Linked DNA regions of Homo sapiens: all the other regions are linked to region 2. The links come from fine-mapping of genetic effects on gene expression. A gene starts in region 2. Each other region holds a variant in brackets. All regions are shown on one strand. Distances are between the middles of the regions. Region 1 has its middle 44 kb from the start of PPM1K. Region 2 holds the start of ABCG2 (ATP binding cassette subfamily G member 2 (JR blood group)). Region 3 overlaps ABCG2 (ATP binding cassette subfamily G member 2 (JR blood group)). Region 4 has its middle 53 kb from the start of PPM1K.

Evidence for each region. PIP is the estimated chance that this variant, and not a neighbour inherited with it, causes the effect.
Region 1: its variant is the best candidate, but not a certain one, in a credible set for the expression of ABCG2 in whole blood (INTERVAL, PIP 0.87).
Region 3: its variant is the best candidate, but not a certain one, in a credible set for the expression of ABCG2 in pancreatic islets (PISA, PIP 0.55).
Region 4: its variant is the best candidate, but not a certain one, in a credible set for the expression of ABCG2 in whole blood (INTERVAL, PIP 0.71).

What each region holds. Positions count from the first base shown.
Region 1 is chr4:88,238,441-88,243,599 of GRCh38, reverse strand. No RefSeq gene overlaps it. Among named protein-coding and RNA genes, the nearest start is that of PPM1K, 44 kb to the left of the region's middle. The variant G/A (reference allele first, on the strand shown) is at 2,850.
Region 2 is chr4:88,156,263-88,161,421 of GRCh38, reverse strand. It overlaps ABCG2 (ATP binding cassette subfamily G member 2 (JR blood group)), which reads left to right and starts at 2,783. Exons shown (of 16, transcript NM_004827.3): 1 at 2,783-3,036. LOC124900867 reads left to right here and starts at 1,866. Exons shown (of 2, transcript XM_047416558.1): 1 at 1,866-1,952; 2 at 2,340-3,036. The coding sequence starts at 1,866. The coding sequence ends at 2,849. RefSeq lists a silencer at 2,497-2,716.
Region 3 is chr4:88,099,726-88,104,884 of GRCh38, reverse strand. It overlaps ABCG2 (ATP binding cassette subfamily G member 2 (JR blood group)), which reads left to right. Exons shown (of 16, transcript NM_004827.3): 11 at 3,566-3,655. Among named protein-coding and RNA genes, the nearest start is that of ABCG2, 56 kb to the left of the region's middle. The variant C/T (reference allele first, on the strand shown) is at 2,403.
Region 4 is chr4:88,229,296-88,234,408 of GRCh38, reverse strand. It overlaps a transcript of ABCG2 not described here. Among named protein-coding and RNA genes, the nearest start is that of PPM1K, 53 kb to the left of the region's middle. The variant T/G (reference allele first, on the strand shown) is at 2,571.

The DNA.
Region 1 (5,159 bases), 82 kb before region 2:
AATGAATACTAGATACATACAGAAATATATATTTTTGTTCTGTGAGGTGTGTGTATGTGTGTCTGTCTGTGTGTGTCTTTTAATATCAATGAATTTATATGCCCTGTGTTAATTAGCAGCTTGCTGTTTTCAATTAATATGTATTGGAGGTCTTTGTCAATATAGCACATGTATTTCTATCTCAAACTGTTGCATAACATTCTATTGTATGCATTTGCTGCATTTTATTTACTCGTACCCTTGGAGATAAGCATTTAGGTTCTAGTTTTTCCTTCTTTCCTTTCTTTTCTACCTTTCTATATTGAATTACAATGGTCTTAATAGTATATTTAATAACATAAAATAACGTGTTACATCTGTTGAGGAGGAAACACATTATCCTCTACCTTCTCAGATTCTCTGGTTGGGACTAAGAATTAAACAGACATAAGATGGATAAACAGGAGAAAAGTAGACAAGCTTTATTAAATTTTTACATGTACATGGGCTTTCACATGACGCTCTAAAGAAGTGACTAGAGCAGAAATCTTTCTAAACATTTTTGACAAAGAAATTATACATTTATGAAGAAATAACAAGATAAAGGGGTTTGGACTGGAGGTAATAAATTGTGGGGAAATGACTGGGAGATATATGAATGGGGGTAAAACTAGTAAGATATAAGGATTATTTATTAAGTTTGTTTATGCAGATCCATTTCAATGTCGATTCCCAGTCTCTGGTGATAAGGATTTCTTGTCTTTCTGGTATAAGGAGGGCACCTTCCTCATGGGAAGTTTTATGGCCTATTCTTAAATAGAAAAGGGGAGGTCAGAGAGCCCTTCCTGCGTCAGCTCTTTCTCAAGTGCCTTCAGCTCAAAATAGTTAACATGCCAAAGCAGCATATTTTGGGGCAGCATGACCTTAACTCCTTCACATGAAACATGGGAGGAAATTTGAAAATTAAAGCTTGTGTTATCTTCTGTCAGAAAAAAAAGTATGTGTTTTCTAAATTGGAATCATTTAGATTTGCCCCAAAGGAAAAAAAGTCTTTGGTTACTTCTTAACGAAGGATTTATCTAACATTTATTATTCTGGAATAGATGGAAATCATGAGAGCTGGAGCCCAGTTTCTCTCAGCTTTGCTGAGTTCACTTGGTCATCTTGGCCAAGTTGGCATGAAGTCTACATCAGTAGAAAGTGAGGATCTAATATCACAACTTGCCTCATCCCACACTGCGCTCCCTTCTCCAATTACCTACAGCCTGAACCAATATGGCATTCAGCCAACACTTTTCAGGTCATGTGTGTTAGTCTTGTCAACTCAACCTTGACACCAACCCTGGAGGGCAGAAATCACCCCTTTTTCTCCTGAACAGTGCCTAGCTGATCCTTAGAAACATAGTTATTTACTTTCAATATGTGTTAATTATCTTTAAAACTGTATTTGCAGGTTAGCTTTATTTTGTTTAGAAAAAATCTTAGAATAAAAGTCTTACCACCTCTATAGCTGTATCAGAACTTCTTTTAAGTGTATCACTAGGCCGGGTGCAGTGGCTCACGCCTGTAATCCCAGCACTTTGGGAGACCAAGGCAGGTGGATCACCTGAGGTCAGGAATTCGAGACTAGCCTGGTAAACATGGTGAAACCCCGTCTCGACTAAAAATATAAAAATTAGCTAGGTGTGGTGGTGCATGTCTGTAATCCCAGCTATTTTGGAGGCTAAGGCAGGAGAATCGCTTGAACCCAGGAAGTGGAGGTTGCAGTGACCCAAGATCATGCCACTGCATTCTAGCCTGGGCAACAGAGCTAGACTCTCTCTCAAAAAATGAATAAATAAATAAATAAATAAACAAATAAATAATAAAAGAAGTTTAGATATATCCACAGAAATGGCAGAAATTTCATACCAAGGTTTGTCTAAACTTGGTTTCTACCTGGAATAAAGAATAATCTGCCAGGTATAGTGGGGCATGCCTGTAATCCCAGCTACTAGGGAAGCTGAGGTGGGAGGATTGCTTGAGGCTAGGAGTTTGAGACCAGCCTGAGCAACATAGCAAAACCCCATTTCTGGGGGGAAAAAGAATAATCTCACACATATTTCAAATGTATGTAGATTTATGTTGTGTGATTAAAATATGTTTATTTTAAAGAGTTATCTATGTTGTTATTGGCATTTTGTACTTTCTCTTCCGGGATACTTAAAGTGCAAATACTACCATGAGGAAAGAGGGAGTCTTACCAAATGAAAAAATGATCCTCATATTTACAAAACCCTGGCCAGGTGCATTGGCTCATGCCTGTAATATCAGCACTTTGGGAAGCTGAGGTGGAAAGATTGCTTTAGCCCAGGAGTTTGGGACCAGCCTGGCCAACATGAGACCCCATCTGTATAAAAAATGTCAAACATTTAAAAAACTAGCCAGGCATGGTGGTGCAAACCTGTGGTCCCTGCTACTTGGGAGGCTGAGGTGTGCTTGAGCTCCGGAGGTTGAAGCTGCAGTGAGCTGTGATAATGCCACAGCACTTTAGCATGGACAACAGAGTGAAACCCCATTTTTTAAAAAACAAAAAAAAAAATCAGAGAGAGAGGGCAGAGCAATATGGGTGAATAGAAGGCTCCACTGATTGTCCCCAGAGAGGAACACCAAATTTAATAACTATCTATACATAAAAAGCATCTTTCTTCAGGCAAGGCAGTCATGAAAGAAATAATATAAAATAAAGCACCTTCCTAAGAATGAAAAATCAGGTGAGCACTCACAGTGCCTGGTTTTAACTTCATATTGCTGACAGAGGCACTGAAGAGGGCAAGAAAGACAGTCTTGAATTGCTGATGGCACCCCACCCCTATCCTCTGGCGATGGCC[G/A]TAGGTGCAGAGAGAGAATCTGTGCACTTGGGAGAGGGACAGTGCAGTGATTGTGAGAGGCATTGAACTCAAAGCTGCCCTGTCACAACAGAAAGCAAAACTGGGCTGAACTCAAATGATGCCTGCCCATTGAGGGAGCACTGAGACTAGCCCTAGCCAGAGGGGAATGGCCCATCCCAACAGTCAGAACTTGAGTTCCAGCAAGTCTCATCATTATGACCTAAAATGCTCTGGGGCCCTAAATAAACTTGAAAGGCAGTTTAGGCAATAAGGACTGCAACTCCTACACAAGTCTTAGTGCTGAGTTGGGCGTGTAGCCAGTGGACATGAGGGACATGTGACCTACTGAGACACCAGCCAGGGCAACTACAGGAGTGCTTGCACTACCCCTCCCAAAACACCAGGCAGCACAGCCCTCAGCTGCAAAGGAGAAGCCTTACTTCTGCTTGAGGAGAGGAGAGGAAAGAGTAAAGAGGAATTTGTCTTGCAACTTGGATACCAACTCAGCCGCAGTAGGATAGGGCACTAGTCAGGGTCATTAGGCCCCCATTCCAGGCCCTAGTTCCCAGACAGTATTTCTAGACATACCTTAGGCCAGAAGGGAATCCACTGCCTTGAAAGGAAGGACCTATCCTGGGAGGAATCATCACCTGCTGATTAAAGAGACCTTGGGCCCTGAATAATCAGCAGCAGCACCCAGGCAGTACTTGCCATGGGCCTTGGGTAAGACTCAGAGATATGCTGGCTTTAGATGTGAACCAGCACAGTCCCAGCTATGGTGGCTATGGTGAGAGACTCCTTTTGCTTGAAAAAAGCTGAGGGAAAAGTAAAGAGGACTTGATCTTGCACCTTAGGTACCAGCTCAGCAACAGTGGGGTAGAGTAACAAGTGGGCTCTTGGGGCCCCTAATTAGAGGCCTTGGCTCTTAGATGGAATTTCTAAGCCTTCCCTGGGCCAGAAGGTGGACCATTTCCCTGAAGAGTGAGTCCCAGACCTGGCAGCCTTCAGCATAAGCTGACTGAAGAGCCCTTGGGCCTTAGTGAACCTCGGTGGTAGCCCGGCAGCACTCCCCTTGGGCCTGTGGAGGTGATGGCCATGGGTGAGTTTCCTCTGCCTGTAGAAAGGTGAGGAAAGCGTAGAAATAACTGTGTCACATAACTTGTGTGCTAGCTCAGCTGTGGTAGAATAGAGCACCAGGTAGATTACTAAGATTTTTGACTCTAGTCCCTAGTTCATGGATGGCATCTCTGGAAAAGAATAGGGTCTAGGGGAACTTGCTGCCCTGAAGAGAAGGACACAAATCTCGCTGGCTTTACCACCTGCTGATTGCAGAGCCCTAGGGCCTCGAGTGAACATAGGCAGTAGCCAGGTACTGGTTACAACAGGCCTTGGGTGAGACTCAGTGCTGTGCCAGCTTCAGGTCTGTCCCAACTCAGTCCCAGTGGTGGTGGCCACAGGGGTGCTTGTGTCACCCCACCCCCAGCTCCAGACAGCTCATCACAGAAAGACAGACTCCATTTGCTTGGAAGAAAGTAAGGAAAGAAACAAGAATCTGCCTGGTAATCCAGAGAATTATTCCAAATATTATTCAAGATTATCAAGGCAGTACCTCTATGAGTCTGGAAGAACCATAGTGTTACTGGGCTTGAGATGCCCCCTAATGTAGATATGTCTTAGATCTCAACACCCAAGTCTTTTTAAATGCCTGGAAAGAGTGCAGAGACTACCATAGATATCTGACTCTTCAATGCCCAAACGCCAATGAACATCCACAAGCATCAAGACCTTCCAGGAAAACATGACCTCACCAAATGAACTAAATAAGGGAACAGGGAACAATCCTGGAGAAGCAGAGATATATGACCTTTCAGACAGATAATTCAAAATAGCTGTTTGGGGGAATGCAAAGAAATTCAAGATAACACAGAAAAGGAATTTAGAATTCTGTCAGATAAGTTTAACAAAGAAATTGAAATAATTAGAAAGAATCTAGCAGAAATTTTGGAGTTGAAAAATGGAATTGACATGGTGAAGAATGCATCAGTCTTTCACCAGCAGAATAAATCAAAACAGAAGAAAGCATCAGTGAGCTTGAAGACAGGCTACTTGAAAATATACAGTCAGAGGAAACAAAAGAATAAAAAAATATAAAGTATGCCTAGAAGATCTAGAAATTAGCCTTAAAGGGGCAAACCTAAGAGTTATTGGCCTTAAAAAGGAGCTAGAGAAAGAGATAGGGATAGAAAGTTTATCCAAAGGAATAACACAGAACTTCCAAAACCCACAGAAAGTTATTGATAACCAAATATA
Region 2 (5,159 bases):
CACCGCATATTCTCACTCATAGGTGGGAATTGAACAATGAGATCACTTGGACACAGGAAGGGGAATATCACACTCTGGGGACTGTGGTGGGGTCGGGGGAGGGGGGAGGGATAGCATTGGGAGATATACCTAATGCTAGATGACACGTTAGTGGGTGCAGCGCACCAGCATGGCACATGTATACATATGTAACTAACCTGCACAATGTGCACATGTACCCTAAAACTTAGAGTATAATAAAAAAAAAAAAAATTAAAAAAAAAAATTGTTTGTAGAGACAGGGGCTCCCTGTGTTGCCTAGGCTTGTCTCGAATTCTTGGGCTCAAGCAATCCTCTGGCCTCCTCCCAAAGTGCTGGGATTACAGGTGTAAGCCACCACACCCAGTGTAATTTAAAATATTTTTTTTTTGTAGAGATAGGGTCTCAGTATGTTGCCCAGGCTGGTCTTGAACTCCTGGGCTCAAGCAATTCTTTGGCCTCTGCCTCCCAAAGTGTTGGGATTACAGGAGTGAGCTGTCACTCCTTGCCCAGCAATTTTCTATGTATAGGTTTTTTTTTTTTTTTTTTTTTTTTGAGATGGAGTCTCACGTTGTCACCCAGGCTAGAGTGCAGTGACATGATCTTGGCTCACTGCAGCCTCTGCCTCCCTGGCTCCAGCAATTCTCCTGCCTCAGCCTCCTGGGTAGCTGGGATTACAGGCATGAGCCACCATGCCCGGCTAATTTTTGTATTTTTAGTAGAGAAGGGTTTCACCATGTTGGCCAGGCTGCTCTTGAAGTCCTGATATCAGGTGATCCACCTGCCTCGGCCTCCCAAAGTACTAGGATTACAGGCGTGAGCCACCGTGCCTGGCCTCTATGTATAGGGTTTTGATTTGTTTTTACTTTGCATAATTACAGAATGCTATATTCAACTAAGTATCCATTTTTAAAAATGTGCTTCATATCAGTTTCGTGTGTGTTTTCTCCATTTTTGTTCAGTCTCCTCCTGTAGTGCCTTCAGATCTTGCTGGAAATGTTTTCATTTTTTCTGGTATCATAAAATTTTATTCTTTTCACTTATCTGGGTGAGCTAAAAAGAAAATTAAAATAAAATTTATTTTTCGGAGATTTTTCAGTTTTTGCAAACAGTCGTTAACGGCCAGGTCTGAAAACTTTATCTTAATTTTTTTTTTTTTCTTGAGACAGAGTCTCACTCTGTGGCCCAGGCTGGAGTGCAGTGGTGGGATCTCGGGTCATTTGCAACCTCTGCCTCCTGTGTTCAAGCGCTTCTTGTTCCTTAGCCTCGCGAGTAGCTGGGATTACAGCCTCGCCACCACACCCAGCTAACTTTTGTATTTTTAGTAGAGGCAGGGTTTCACCATGTTGGCCAGGCTGGTCTCGAACTCCTGGCCTCAAGTGATCTGCCTGCGTCAGCCTCCCAAAGTGCTGGGATTACAGGCATGAGCCACCGTGCTGGCCTTAATTTTGTCTTAAAATGAAGTATGACTAACATGTATTTCTATATGGGCCTTTAAGGGTCTTGAAACTGACAGAAATTAATTCAAAAGAATAATTTTACCCAAATGTTTGGGCGCATCATGAATATATACCTTAAAATTCTTTTAAAAAGCATGCGGTATGGTATATTTAAAATTCTTTTTAAAAAATTATGTATAGTCAATTTTCTTATCTAGGCTTCCTAGCTAAAACTTTCCTGCATTGGGTGAACCATTAATAGTTATTCCTAGTGTTGATTTAAACAACTTAAATGATACTATGATTTTTGTTTGTAAATGCAAACCAGAAAATATCTGCATGCAGGTACTAATTTCCTAGGGTAGATGCAGCAGGTAGATGTTGGGATGGCTACACTCACAAAGCCTGATGGCCCGTTTCCTGAACATGCGCAATCACTTTCTAGCCTTTCCACACCATCGGAATATTGCACAGAAGTATGTCAGTCACAGGAGTGTAAAGAATAACATTTAAACTATGGTAATATTTTCATTCAGTAAGTTTCTCCCCTTTCCTTCCTTGGGTTAGATTCAGTGCCTGATTTTTTTAGGCCCTGGGGCGCAAGCATCCACTTTCTCAGAATCCCATTCACCAGAAACCACCCATTTAACTTGCTCTGGGTGCGAGCAGCGCTTGTGACTGGGCAACCTGTGCGTCAGCGTCCCCGGTGCTTCGGCGCTCCGGCCAGTGACGGCGACCAAACCCAGCTAGGTCAGACGAGGTACTGATCAGCCCAATGAGCGCCTGGTGATTCTCGTAGTTAATCACTCTGGTTCATTCCGTTCGATCCCGGAGGCGGGAGTGTTTGGCTTGTCCCTGCGTGTCACGGCAGGGTGACCCTAGCCCCGAGGGAGGGCGGTGGTACCAGTCCTGCTGGCGGCTCAGCGCGGCAGGACACGTGTGCGCTTTCAGCCGGGTCGCAGGGCGCTTATCGCGGCCCGGCAGTCGGGGCCACGCCTCACCCCCGCCCGCGAACCCCGACCTGGGGAAACCCGGGGCGCTGGGGAGGGGCCACTGCGTTCAGCTCTGGCGGTCCACAGCCCGAAGCGCGGCTTAGGAAGTTCGTGTCAGCGCTGCCTGAGCTCGTCCCCTGGATGTCCGGGTCTCCCCAGGCGGCCACCCGCCGGCTCCCATCGTGACCTCCAGCCGCAGCGCCTCCCACGCCGGCCGCCGCGCGAGGGGAGCGCTCGGGCGCGCCGGGTGTGGTTGGGGGAAGGGGTTGTGCCGCGCGCGGGCTGCGTGCTGTGCCCACTCAAAAGGTTCCGGGCGCGCAGGAGGGAAGAGGCAGTGCCCGCCACTCCCACTGAGATTGAGAGACGCGGCAAGGAGGCAGCCTGTGGAGGAACTGGGTAGGATTTAGGAACGCACCGTGCACATGCTTGGTGGTCTTGTTAAGTGGAAACTGCTGCTTTAGAGTTTGTTTGGAAGGTCCGGGTGACTCATCCCAACATTTACATCCTTAATTGTTAAAGCGCTGCCTCCGAGCGCACGCATCCTGAGATCCTGAGCCTTTGGTTAAGACCGAGCTCTATTAAGCTGAGTGAGTAAATTGTAAAACCAGTTTCGCTGAGAGTGTGTGTCTGGAAAGGTTGGTGGGCGTTGTGTATATATTTGTTAGAAAATCGGTAACCGTTCAAACGAGACGACTGAGTTTTTTAGCCTTTCGCAGTTTCATTTGAAAGTGGGTATGCAGTTTAAAACTGACAGTTCAAAGTGGTTTTTCAGAAAATGATGCCCTGGTGCAAACTGATTCTGGGTCCCATAGTGTGTTAAGTGTGGGTTGGTAAAAACTCTTGGCCTTTCTCCAAATGTATGAAATTAAAGTTGATATTGGAAGGATAAAAACCCACTGAGCACAGAAGTTACTATAGGTGGAGGAAACATTTGTTGATGTTAATATTTTAAAGGGGTTGACCAATATAGGAATTGGTCAATGACAATTGGGAATAGGTAAATGACAAATTATTGGTCAATCCCTTTAAAGCTTTGGATGGTTTGCTAAAGAATTATTGAACTCCCTTTTGTAATTTTCTGTGGATAGTTGAGTGCTCTTACTCCCTTCTCAGTCCTAGAGATATCCCCTAAAGCTTGGTTTTTAGGAGGATCTTACAGCTCTCTTATCATTTGAATGTCAGCTAGTCATAAATAAATACACCAGAGTAGTAAGGAAGAGATGTTTTTTATTGATATTCTTTACAAAACAGTGCTTTCAGAGTACAGCTTTGACTGGATTGTATAGATCTTGATGAGATCTTGATGAGAAAGGTTTCAACGACAAAGATGGCATGTTAAGTCTAACATTACCCTTCCATTATAAACATTGAAAGATGTTGGTTATTTTATTATTTATTTTATAATAACTTTTAATTGTGAAATAATTTGAGAGTTACTGAAAATTTGCAAAAAATAGTACAGAGAGTTCCCATAATATCATGCATAACAAGGGCCAAAACTAATAACATGGGCATGCTACTATAATACAATGAACTAAACTACAGACTTTATTTGGATTTCACTTGTCTTTCCACTGTCCTTTTTCTGCCCAGGATCCAATCGATGATCTCACTTTGCATTTAACTGCTAAATATCCTTAATTTTCTCTGATCTGTGACAGTTCCTCAGCCTTTCATTGTTTTTTCATGGACCTTGACACTAGTGAAGAAGACCCGGTCAGTTAATTTGTAGAATGCCCCTCAATTTGTGTTTGCTTGATGTTTAGTGTCATGATTAGATGAATGTTCTGCATTTTGGGGAAAAATGTCACAGAAGTAAAGTTTCCATCTCAGTATGTCATATTGGGTACATGATGTCAATACTTTTTTTTGAGACTGAGTCTTGCTTTATTGCCCAGACTGGAGTGCAGTGGCACGATCTCAGCTCATTGCAACCTTTGCCTCCCAGGTTCTAGCGATTCTCCTGCCTCAGCCTCCTGAGTAGCTGGGATTATAGGCGCCTGCCACCATGCCCAGATAATTTTTTGTATTTTTAGTAGAGACAGGTTTCATGTTGGCCAGGCTGGTCTCGAACTCCTGACCTCTAGTGATCCTCCTGCCTTGGCCTCCCAAAGTGCTGGGATTACAGGCGTGAGCCACTGTGCCCTAGCCGATACTTCTTATTACCTATGATGTTAATCTGTTTGCCAGATTCCCTTTGTATTTGAGATCTTGGGAGAGAAACCTGCACTGCCATTTTTCCTTAAACTTTTATTCATTAATTTAAGCATCCATTTGTGGAACATGTTGTTTAGCGGGTTTTTTTTCCTAATGGTTAAACAAAACCCCTATTTTCTTCCTTCTACATTTTTTAATTAAAATTCCCTTCTGTAGGGAAGAGTTGACCCTTCTCTCCTGTTCATTGATTCAGTTATTTGTATCAGTATGGGCTCATGGATATTTGTTTTGTTATATGGGTTATAATCCAATATTATCAGTATTTAATTTGCTGCTCAAATTGTTCTGGCTTTCACCACTGGGACCTTTTTCAGGTTGGCGCCTGTGCCACTTTGACATACACTTGCTTTTTCTTTTTCCTTCTTTTTTTTTTTTTTTTTTTTTTGAGACGGAGTCTTTGTCGCCCAGGCTGGAGTGCAGTGGCACGATCTCGGCTCACTGCACCCTCCGCCTCCCAGGCTCAAGCGATTCTTGTGCCTCAGCCTACCAAGTA
Region 3 (5,159 bases), 57 kb after region 2:
TAGAAAAATCCAGAGAAATAAAGAAGAACTTTAGGTGTTTCTTCAGATGTTTTCTGGAGAAATAGGGCATTAATCTTATTTTAATTTGTTTGTTTTTGAAACAGAATCTCACAATATTGCCCAGGCTGGTGTGCAGTAGTGCAGTCATAGCTCACTGCAGCTTTGAACTCCTGGGCTCATAATTTGTATTTGTGACTTAAGCTTGCTATCTTTTTTTTTTCCCCCAAAGCTCTAGGGTACATGTGCAGGATGTGCAGGTTTGCTACATAGTTAAACGTGTGCCATGGTGGTTTGCTACACCTATCAATCCATCACTTTGGTGTTAAGCCCAGTATGCATTAGCTATTTTTCCTGATGTTCTTCCTCCCACTGCTTCTCGTTGACCCCAGTATCATTTTTTAAATAAGCATTTGGACTATGTTAAAGTGGCCTGTGTATATGATTTAATCCCTCCTGGGATGATTAGTGATTTATTGATGAGGAAAAAATGTTTCAGCATCATCTCTGGAAACAGGTTCTCAAAGTTTTGTTCAGGGGTGAATATTAGTACTTCATAATTTAAAACTGCTCGAGGCCAGTGGTTTAGTTCTCTTCTTTGGGGATGAATTCTCTGAGAGAGGAAAGCACTCTCTGCTCTTTCTCTAACCCGTGTAACTGAGAAACTGGGTTTTAATCATATGTAGAGTATAAGCATCTTTGAATTAATAGCTACCTCTGGAATAACTGCTTTACAGAGTTGTGGTGATAGCTAAACAAATTAGTGTGTATTAAGGGAAAAGGTATACTTTAAAAACAGTATTCAGATCCAGTCATCTCACTTCTAGATATTTACCCCAAAGATGTGAAATCAGTTTATTGAAGAAATTTCTGCACCCTCATATTTATTGCAGCATTGTTCACAATAGCCAAGATACGGAATCACCCGAAGGGTCTGATTTGATAAAGAAAATGTGGTATATATACACAGTGGAAAAACAAAAGAAATTTTGTCATTTGCAACAACATGGATGTAATTGGAGAATATTATGCCAAGTGAAATAAGCCAAACGCAGAAAGCTAAGCACAGAAATGTCACATAATCTCACTTAATGTGGAATCTGAAACAATGGAACTGAAAGAGACAGTAGAATGGTGGTTGCCAGAGGCTAGAGGTGTGTGGGGAATGGAGAGATGATGGTCAAAGGGTACAAAACCTCAGTTACACAGGAGGAATAAGGATTTTTCTTTGGAGATACATTGCACAATGTGGTGAACACAGTAAATAATAATGTAAATTTCAGAATTGCTAAAATTTAAGATACTTTTACCACAAAAAATAAATGTTTGAGACGATGGATGTGTTAATTAGCTTGATTTAATTATTTCACACTTATGATTCATGAATTATATAACTTGGTACCCCACAAATATATACAACCATAATATGCCAATTTATAATTTAAAAAATCAAAATAAAAAATATTCAGACCAATAAGTAGATATAACAGATGTGGATTACCACCTTGAAAGAATTAGAATGAATTAACTTCCTTAATAAGAAAAAACTGTGTTTAAAATAAATCATCTTAGTATTTAGAAGGAACGTTTCCATTGTCTACTTTTTCAGAATCATTATGGACATTACTGTACTGATAGATTTAAGACAACAAATTGAATTGAATCTTTGCTATGTTCCATGTTCTGAAATTAGCTTTTTACTTGATATTAGGTTTATTTGTGTACAGAAAGTGAGATAACTGCATGTCTACCAGGCCTGGCTATTTTTCACTCATTTTAATTATATGTACATACTTTTAAAACTGCTCTGGCTGGGCACCGTGGCTTACATTTGTAACTGCAGCACTTTGGGAGGCCAAGCTGGGAGGATTGCTTGAGGCCAGGAGTTCAACTCAGTTGCAGTGAGTTTATGATCATGCCACTATACTCTAGCCTGGGTGACCGAGGGCAGCTCTGTCTCTAAAAATAAAATAAAACAAAAAAGACCCTAGCCTGTTCCCTTAGATCTTTGTTCTTTAGGTATCTATGGACTCTTTTTTTTCTTTTAATGTAATTGTGTTGTTCACTTGGGTTTGCATTTTTTAAAATGTTCTCTTGTTTTTACGCCATTTAAATGATGTGTCACTTACCTCTTTTTCAGTTTCAACTCACACCCTTACTGTCAATTATATTGTTTTGTTATGGTGTTTCAGGGATGTTGGCATGCTTTCATAAAATGCATATTTGTATCAAAGTGTAGATTAACTTAGCATTTTCCTTTTTATTTATTTATTTTTTAATTTTTTTTTTTTTGAGACAGTGTCTCGCTCTGTCACCCAGGCTGGAGTGCAGTGGCGCGATCTCAGCTCACTGCAACCTCCACGTCCCAGGTTCAAGCGATTCTCCTGCCTCAGCCTCCTGAGTAG[C/T]TGGGACTACAGGCACCTGCCACCACGCCCAGCTAATTTTTGTATTTTTAGTAGAGACAGGGTTTCACCATGTTGGTTAGGCTGGTCTTGAACTCCTGACCTCATGATCCTCCCGACCCGGCCTCCCATAGTGCCGAGATTACAGGCATGAGCCACTGCACCCGGCCAACATTTTCCTTTTTAAATCTAGTTACTTCACTGAGAAACAAGCACTAATAGTGTTCCTTTTCATTACGATACACAAATTAGATTTTTCTTTATCAGTAAGTGTCACTTGGTTTCCTCTGAGCACTCTGGAAACCTCATAGAGGGCTGGCTGTCTTAGCGTGGTCAAGGATAATGTCACGGCCCTGCTGATGGTAGTGTGGTGCATGTAGATTATGCATATAATAAGGGGTTGATTGAAGGTTCCCTTCACTGTCTTTCATTTTGCTTCCACATGACTTACATTCTTTGTTCAACTTTAAAATCAAAGTGGCTAATTGAATTTCTTAATCTTTACAGACTTTATTTAGCTTACCACTTTTCTGTTTGTACATTAGGAATGGTACTTGGCATTTTTGTTAGTTAAAATTATGTATTGGCCTGGCTGCCATACCAAAATACCATAGAGCAAGTGGCTTAAACAACAGAAATGTATTTTCTCTCAGTTCTAGTCTGAAAGTCTGAGATCAGGATGCCAGCATTGCTGGGTTCTGGTGAGGGCCCTCTACCTGGCTTGCAGACTTGCCTCCTTGCTGTTCCTTGTGTGGCAGAGCAAGAGCTCTGGTGTCTCTTCCTATTAGGACGCTCTTCCCATTACACTCTCCCCACCTCCCTATCCTGTAACCTCATCTGAACCTAATTACCTTCCAAAGGGCCCATCTTCAAATACCATCACATTGGGGGTTGGGGCTTCAACATATGAATTTTGGTGGGGGGAGACGCAATTCATTCCACAACAATCCAAGACTGTGAGTTTCAAAATGAGTACCACTGTGGAGACATAAGAGATGGGGAGAGGCTTGATGGGGTTCACGCTTCCCTGTTCCAACCAGAACAGTTTCCCTTTTTTTCCTGCTTAACTTTATACACTGTCATTTGTGGAAAGAGTTTTGTGGGTAGAAAATCTGTCTAAGAATGCTGAGTTGACTGCGGTGATTTGGTTCCCCTTTTCATGGCAGAGCTGGGGTTCTCTTCTTCCTGACGACCAACCAGTGTTTCAGCAGTGTTTCAGCCGTGGAACTCTTTGTGGTAGAGAAGAAGCTCTTCATGTGAGTAGGTCTTTGTTCTGGGAACGGGGCTGTCCAGCAGCAGGGGCTATTGGTTAGACTGATTACATCTGGGGTTGGGGCCAAGGATGGGATCCGGAGGATTACCAGTACTTTTTAAAATTTATTTTTAAATTGATGAATAAAAATTGTATATATTGATCATATACAACATGATGTTTTGAAAATATGTATAGGGGTTACCAATATTCATTGAGAAAAAGCAGCCAGAGGTAGGGAAGAAAATCCTGAGCCTTTGGGACCTGATATCCAGAGAAAAGAGTTTTTCTAGATTTGAGTACAGTCAGAAAATCCAAATGTTGGAGAGAGCAAGCAATAAAGGGACTGAAAAGTATATTTTGTTTTTAGTAAATACTGATGACCTTCACAAGAAAAGTTTGAGGGGCTTGGTAGAGATTAAGCAGCAACTTGGAAGTGGGGAGATTAAGTCGACAAAGAACGTGACCATGCTTAGCCCTCGGTGGACCAGGGAAGTGGCACGAGCCGGAAGGCATTCTTACAGTAAAGAGCAGCCTGGTTTAATTTATTGTATTTTCCTATTTATTTATTTATTTATTTTTTGGAGACAGGGTCTTGCTTTGTCGCCCAGGCTGGAGTCCAGAGACATGATCATGGCTCATTGCTGCCTTGACCTGCGGGGCTTACGCAGTCCTCCCATCTCGGCCTCCTGAGTAACTGGCATGCCTAGCTTTTTTTTTTTTTTTTGACATAGAGTCTCGCTCGCTCTGTCTCCCAGGCTGGAGTGCAATGGTGCAATCTTGGCTCACTGCAATCTCTACCTCCCGGGTTCAAGCGATTCTCCTCCCTCAGCCTCCCAAGTAGCTGGGATTACAGGTGCCCGCCACCACACCCAGCTAATTTTTTTGGTATTTTTAGTAGAGATGGGGTTTCGCCATGTTGGCCAGGCTGGTCTCAAACTCCTGACCTCAGGTGATCCACCCCCTTTGGCCGCCCAAAGCACTGGGATTACAGGCGTGAGCCACTGCACCGGGGCGCCTGGCTGTTTTTTTTTTTTTTTTTAATTTTTTTGTAGAGAGAAGGTCTCACTATGTTTCCCAGGCTGGGTATTTTTCAAGGATGGATCACATTTTCCCAAATGTACATGTCACATATAGGAATTATTAGAAAGGGAAATAATGAAGGAAGTGGAAGAGTTTGGAATTGTGGGAGAAAGATGTCAGGAAGAGGAAAGATTACAATTTGGTAGTTGACAGGGATGTATGGCTGGAAGACATGATCATTGAAAGAAGAAGTCTTTTTCTTTTTTTAACTTGGGAGTAGAAGAAGTAAGAAGAGCTTAGTCATCTGAAGCTGCACTAGGGGGCTTGGAGAATAACAGGCCACCTTCCTCATCAGAAATAGGGAAAAAGAAAAGCTTCTATTCCTGCCAAAATCGGCTACTGAAGTGCTGTTCTTCAAGGAAAGCCCCCGTCAAAGAAGGAAAAGAAGCATTCTTTGAAGAGAGGGAGGATGTGTGGAATCTGTT
Region 4 (5,113 bases), 73 kb before region 2:
AAACTCTCCAGGACATTGGACTGGGCAAAGATTTCTTGAATAATACCCCAGAAGCACAGGCAACCAAAGCAAAAATGGACAGATGGGACCATATCAAATTTAAAAGCTTCTGTACAGCAAAGGAAACAATCCACAAAGTGAAGAGACGACCCACAGAATGGGAGAAAATATCTGTAAACTCTCCATTTGACATGGAATAAATAACCAGAATATACAAGGAGCTCAAACAACTCTATAGGAAAAATATCTAATAGCCTAAGTATAAAATGGGTGAAAGATTTGAATAGACATTTCTCAAAAGAAGATGTACAAATGGCAAACAGGTATATGAAAAGGCTCTCAATATCACTGATCATCAGAGAAATGCAAATCAAAACTACAATGAGATATCATCTCACCCCAGTTAAACTGGCTTTTATCTAAAAGACAGTCAATAATAAATGCTGGTGAGGATAGAGAAAAGAAAGCCCTCATACACTGTTGGTGGGAACATAAATTAGTACATCCACTATGGAGAACAGTTTGGAGGTTTTTCAAAAAACTAAAAGTAGAGATACCATATGATCCAGCAATCCCACTCCTAGGTATAAATCTAAAAGAAAAGAAATCCGTATATTGAAGAGATATCTGCATTGCTATGTTTGTTGCAGCTGTATTCACAATAGCCAATATTTGGAAGCAACCCAAGTATCCATCAACAGACAAATGGATAAAGAAAATGTGGTACATATACACAGTGGAGTGCTATTTAGCCATGAAAAAGAATGGGATCTGGCCAGGTGCAGTGGCTCATGCCTGTAATCCCAGCACTTTGGGGGCCGATGTGGGCAGATCACGAATTCAGGAGATTGAGACCATCCTGGCTAACGCAGTGAAACCCCGTCTCTACTAAAAATACCCACATGGTGGCGGGTGCCTGTAGTCCCAGCTACTTGGGAGGCTGAGGCAGGAGAATGGCATGAACTCGGAAGGTGGAGCTTGCAGTGAGCTGAGCTTGCACCACTGCACTCCAGCCTGGGTGACAGAGCGAGACTGTCTCAAAAAAAAGAAGAATGAGATCCTATCATTTGCAACAATACAGATGGAACTGAAGGTAATTATGTTAAGTGAAACAAGCCAAGCACAGAGACACAAACGTAACATGTTCTTACTTATTTGTGGGAGCTAAAAATTAAAACAATTGAACTCATAGAGATAGAGAGTGGAAGAATGGTTACCAGAGGCTGGGAAAAGTATTGGGGAGGTGGGGGGAAGTGGGATGGTTCATGGGTACAAAAAATAATTAGAAAAAATAATTAAGACCTAGTATTTGCTAGCACGACAATGTGACTGTAGTCAAAAATAATTTAATTGTCCACTTAAAAATAACAAAAACACATTAGTCACATGTGGTGGCACACACCTGTAATCCCAGCTACTTGGGAGGCTGAGGCAGGAGGATTGCTTGAACCCTGGAGGTGGAGGTTGCAGTGAGCTGAGATCATACTGCTGCACTCCAGCCTGGGCATTAGAGTGAGACCCCATCTCAAAAAAAATAAATAAATAAATAAATAAAATGAAAAAAGTATAATTGGATTGCTTATAATACAAAGGATAAATGTTTGAGGTGGTGGATACCCCATTTACCCTGATGAGATTACCACACATTGTGTGCCTGTATGAAAATATCTCATGTACCCCATAAATATATACACCTACTATGTACCTACAAGAAATAAAAATTTAAAATTAAACAGAAAAAAAAAATCCCTGACGGAGTTATTGCTTAATGATTACAGAGTATCTGTTTGGGGTGACAAAAAAGTCTTAGAAACAGTGACGGTGACACAACATTGTGAATGTAATTAATGCTACTGACTTGAACTCTTAAAATGTTTCAAATGGCTAATTTTATGTTATACATATTTTACCATATTAAAATAAATTTATAAAAATAGATAAATGGAATTTCTTAACAACTTCAAGATTTTTTAAACGTTCATTTCATTTCAATAAATATTTACAAAATGCCTAATTTGTCCTAGGTACTGCACAACACAGTGAATAATCAGGATAGTGACTTAAATATAAACAGAACTTAACAGCAAGACAAATTCAGTAATCGGTATTTTGTGAATCTCATGAAATTTATCATGACAACTCTGTAAGGAAGGTATTATTGTTATCACTATTTTATTGTTGGGGAAGGCTTGGCTTAAGAAGCTTTTCAAGGCCAGTAAACAGTGGAATTAGAAGCACTTAGTAAATGTCATATTTTTTCTTTTGACATCTATCATGTTTTCAGAATATGAAATGCCTATTTAACTCCAGCCTGGGTGACAAAGTGAGATCTTGCCTAAGAAAAAAAAAAAAAAAAGCCAGGTTTGGTGGTTCATGCCTGTGATCCCAACACTTTGGGAGGCTGAGGTGGGAGGATTGCTGGAGGCCAGGAGTTCGAGACCACCCTGGCCAATATAACAAGACCCCGTCTCTATTTAAAATACACACACACACACACACACACACACACACACAGAGAGAGAGAGAGAGAGAGAGAAATGCCTATTTAGCACAGTCTTGACTTCCTATTT[T/G]ACTTTTGGTTTAGGAAAGAATAACATGAAAAGTATAGCATGCTCCAAGTATACAGCTTCTCGGTCCTCTTTAGATTTCTGGTGGGCCTTTGCATTGAAACCTAACTCTTTGTTTTGGTTTAATTCGCTTCCTTTTCAAATTATGTCATAGTCCTGCTTGGTTGTTTTTTTGTGTGTGCTAGAAGGCAGGGCCTGTGAGAGGAGACCCTCAGTTACATCAGGGTTAAAAAAGCACAGGAAGTTTACGCACAGAGCAAAGCCATTTGCTAGAATTGGTTTTTATCCTTCCATTTCGAAAATAAAGTTGCTGTTTGTGTTGGAGATGCTGTCATCAGAATTCCGCGGCACAAAGAGAAAGATACAAAAATATCTCTCTGACATGTAACTTTCCCCCTTCTTCTAGCCCCTTGCTAGGAATGCCAGAAGAGGATCCCACGCTGACTGGAACCATTAGGTCTTTTGTTTGAATCCCAGTGATCGAGAAAGAAATGTGGTTCATAATCAGCTAGTAGTGGAGAAAAAAGGAACCCAAGGAGATAGGAGAGCTGTTAATTTCACTCGGGACATTTCCTCGAGGCTAGTTTACTCGGAAAGCCTCAATGTTCCCTGGTAGCTGCAGGATCTACTTTGGGGGCTGCCAAGTTTCCTCTCTCATTCTTTCTCCTGCCCCAAGAGCAGGCAGGAAGGAAAGTTCCTGGACTGATACTCGTCTGTTTAGTAGGCGTGGGTCCTGGTTGAAGTCTGTCTAGGAAAACTCCTAAGTGTAGAAATCTTCTTCGTATTACCACTGTCTCTGCACTGAGATTTGGGCTGCTTTGCTTCCAGCGTCACACATCATAACTGAGGTGAGTTGTTTGTTTTTGTTTTTTCCAATCTTCATACTTCGTAGAAAATCTTGATTCTTTTTTGATATGTGCTTTAACAAATGTGTCACTTAAATTGGTACTTCTCATACACTAACTTGCATATGTATCACCTGGAGATCTTGCTGAAACGCAGGCTCTGCAGAACTCAGGGGGCCTGGGGTGGGCCTCTGATTCTGCACATCTCAGCTGACCTCTATGGACCACACTTTGAGTAAAAAGGGCTCAAACTCTGTCAGTTTTTTGCATTTTTGGAAGGGGTTGGGCATTGTAGGCAGGATAAGGGTATTTGGCTGAACACATGATTTATGTTGAGCACCTGAGAAGACAATCAGACAACATCCTTTTCCTGGCTGTACCTACTTTGATGGCTATCTCTGTGCTTTGGGGTTTCTGTTAAGCAGATCCTAGGTGTGGTAAGCCAGATTACCCCTAAGTGAGAGAGGATGTTGGGCTTCTCCTTAGATTATATAGGCCACTTGGAGCAGAGCCAGAAATCCTTTTGTAATTTTTGTATTAACTGCCTATATCATGCCTCATCTGGTGTGGCTGGTGGTCACTTTGAACATTTCAGCTTAAATTGAAAATATGGCCGGGTGCGGCGACAGTGCGAGACTCCGTCTCAAAAAATATATATATATATATATATATGTGGCCAAAAAAAAAAATATATATATATATATAACAGGTGCGGTGTAATCATGCCTGTAATCCCAGCATTTTGGGAGACCGAGGCAAGTGGATCATCTGAGGTCAGGAGTTCGAGACAAGCCTGGCCAACATGGTGAAACCCTGTCTTTACTAAAAATACAACAATTAGCTGGGCGTGGTGTCACACGCCTGTAATCCCAGCTACTTGGAAGGCTGAGGCAGGAGAATCGCTTAAACCCAGGAGGCAGCATTTGCAGTGAGCTAAGACCGCGCCATTGTACTCCAGCCTGGGTGACAAGAGCGAAACTCTGTCTCTAATAATAATAATAATAATAATAATAATAATGCATGCCAGAAAAAATAGCTGATTTCTTTCTCCTATCATTCAGAATTGAAGATTATAAGGCATATGAATCTATTACATTGTTGAAAATCAGTTTGCATAGGGAATAGAATGTATTTTATCCTCCTGTAACAGGCCTGGTAGTGTTCTTTAAATGCAGTATGTTCCTTGTCCCAAACAATTTACAGTTATCTGAAAGTTGCATTTAACCCAAAAGAAACAAGCCAAGAGGAAAAAAGAGAATGGCGAGGAAATATACCTATTGTGTCCCCAGTTGAGGGGAGAAGAAAGCAATGGGAAAAAAGTGGGGAGAAAAGGAGAATGGTGGCCAGGAGTTGACAGGAGACACAGCTTCACAAAATGAATAAAAGGAACCCTATCCTGGAAATAGAATCTTTCCCACACATGCATGGGCGTTCTCCTAGAGTAGAAGCTTGTATCTTTCTTAGTTGGAAAAATGTGACAGAGACAGAGTAGGTAGGTTGTAAATTTTGTTCTATTTTTTTATAGAAACGGGATCTCATTATGTTGCCCAGGCTGGTCTCGAATTCCTGGGCTCATGCGATCCTCCCATCTCGGCCTCCTAAAGTGCTGGGATTACAGGTGTGAGCCACTGTGTCCAGCCAATTTTGTTGTTCTAGTGAAGATGCTGAAGCCATTTGTCATAAATCAAGGAAGGGCTATAC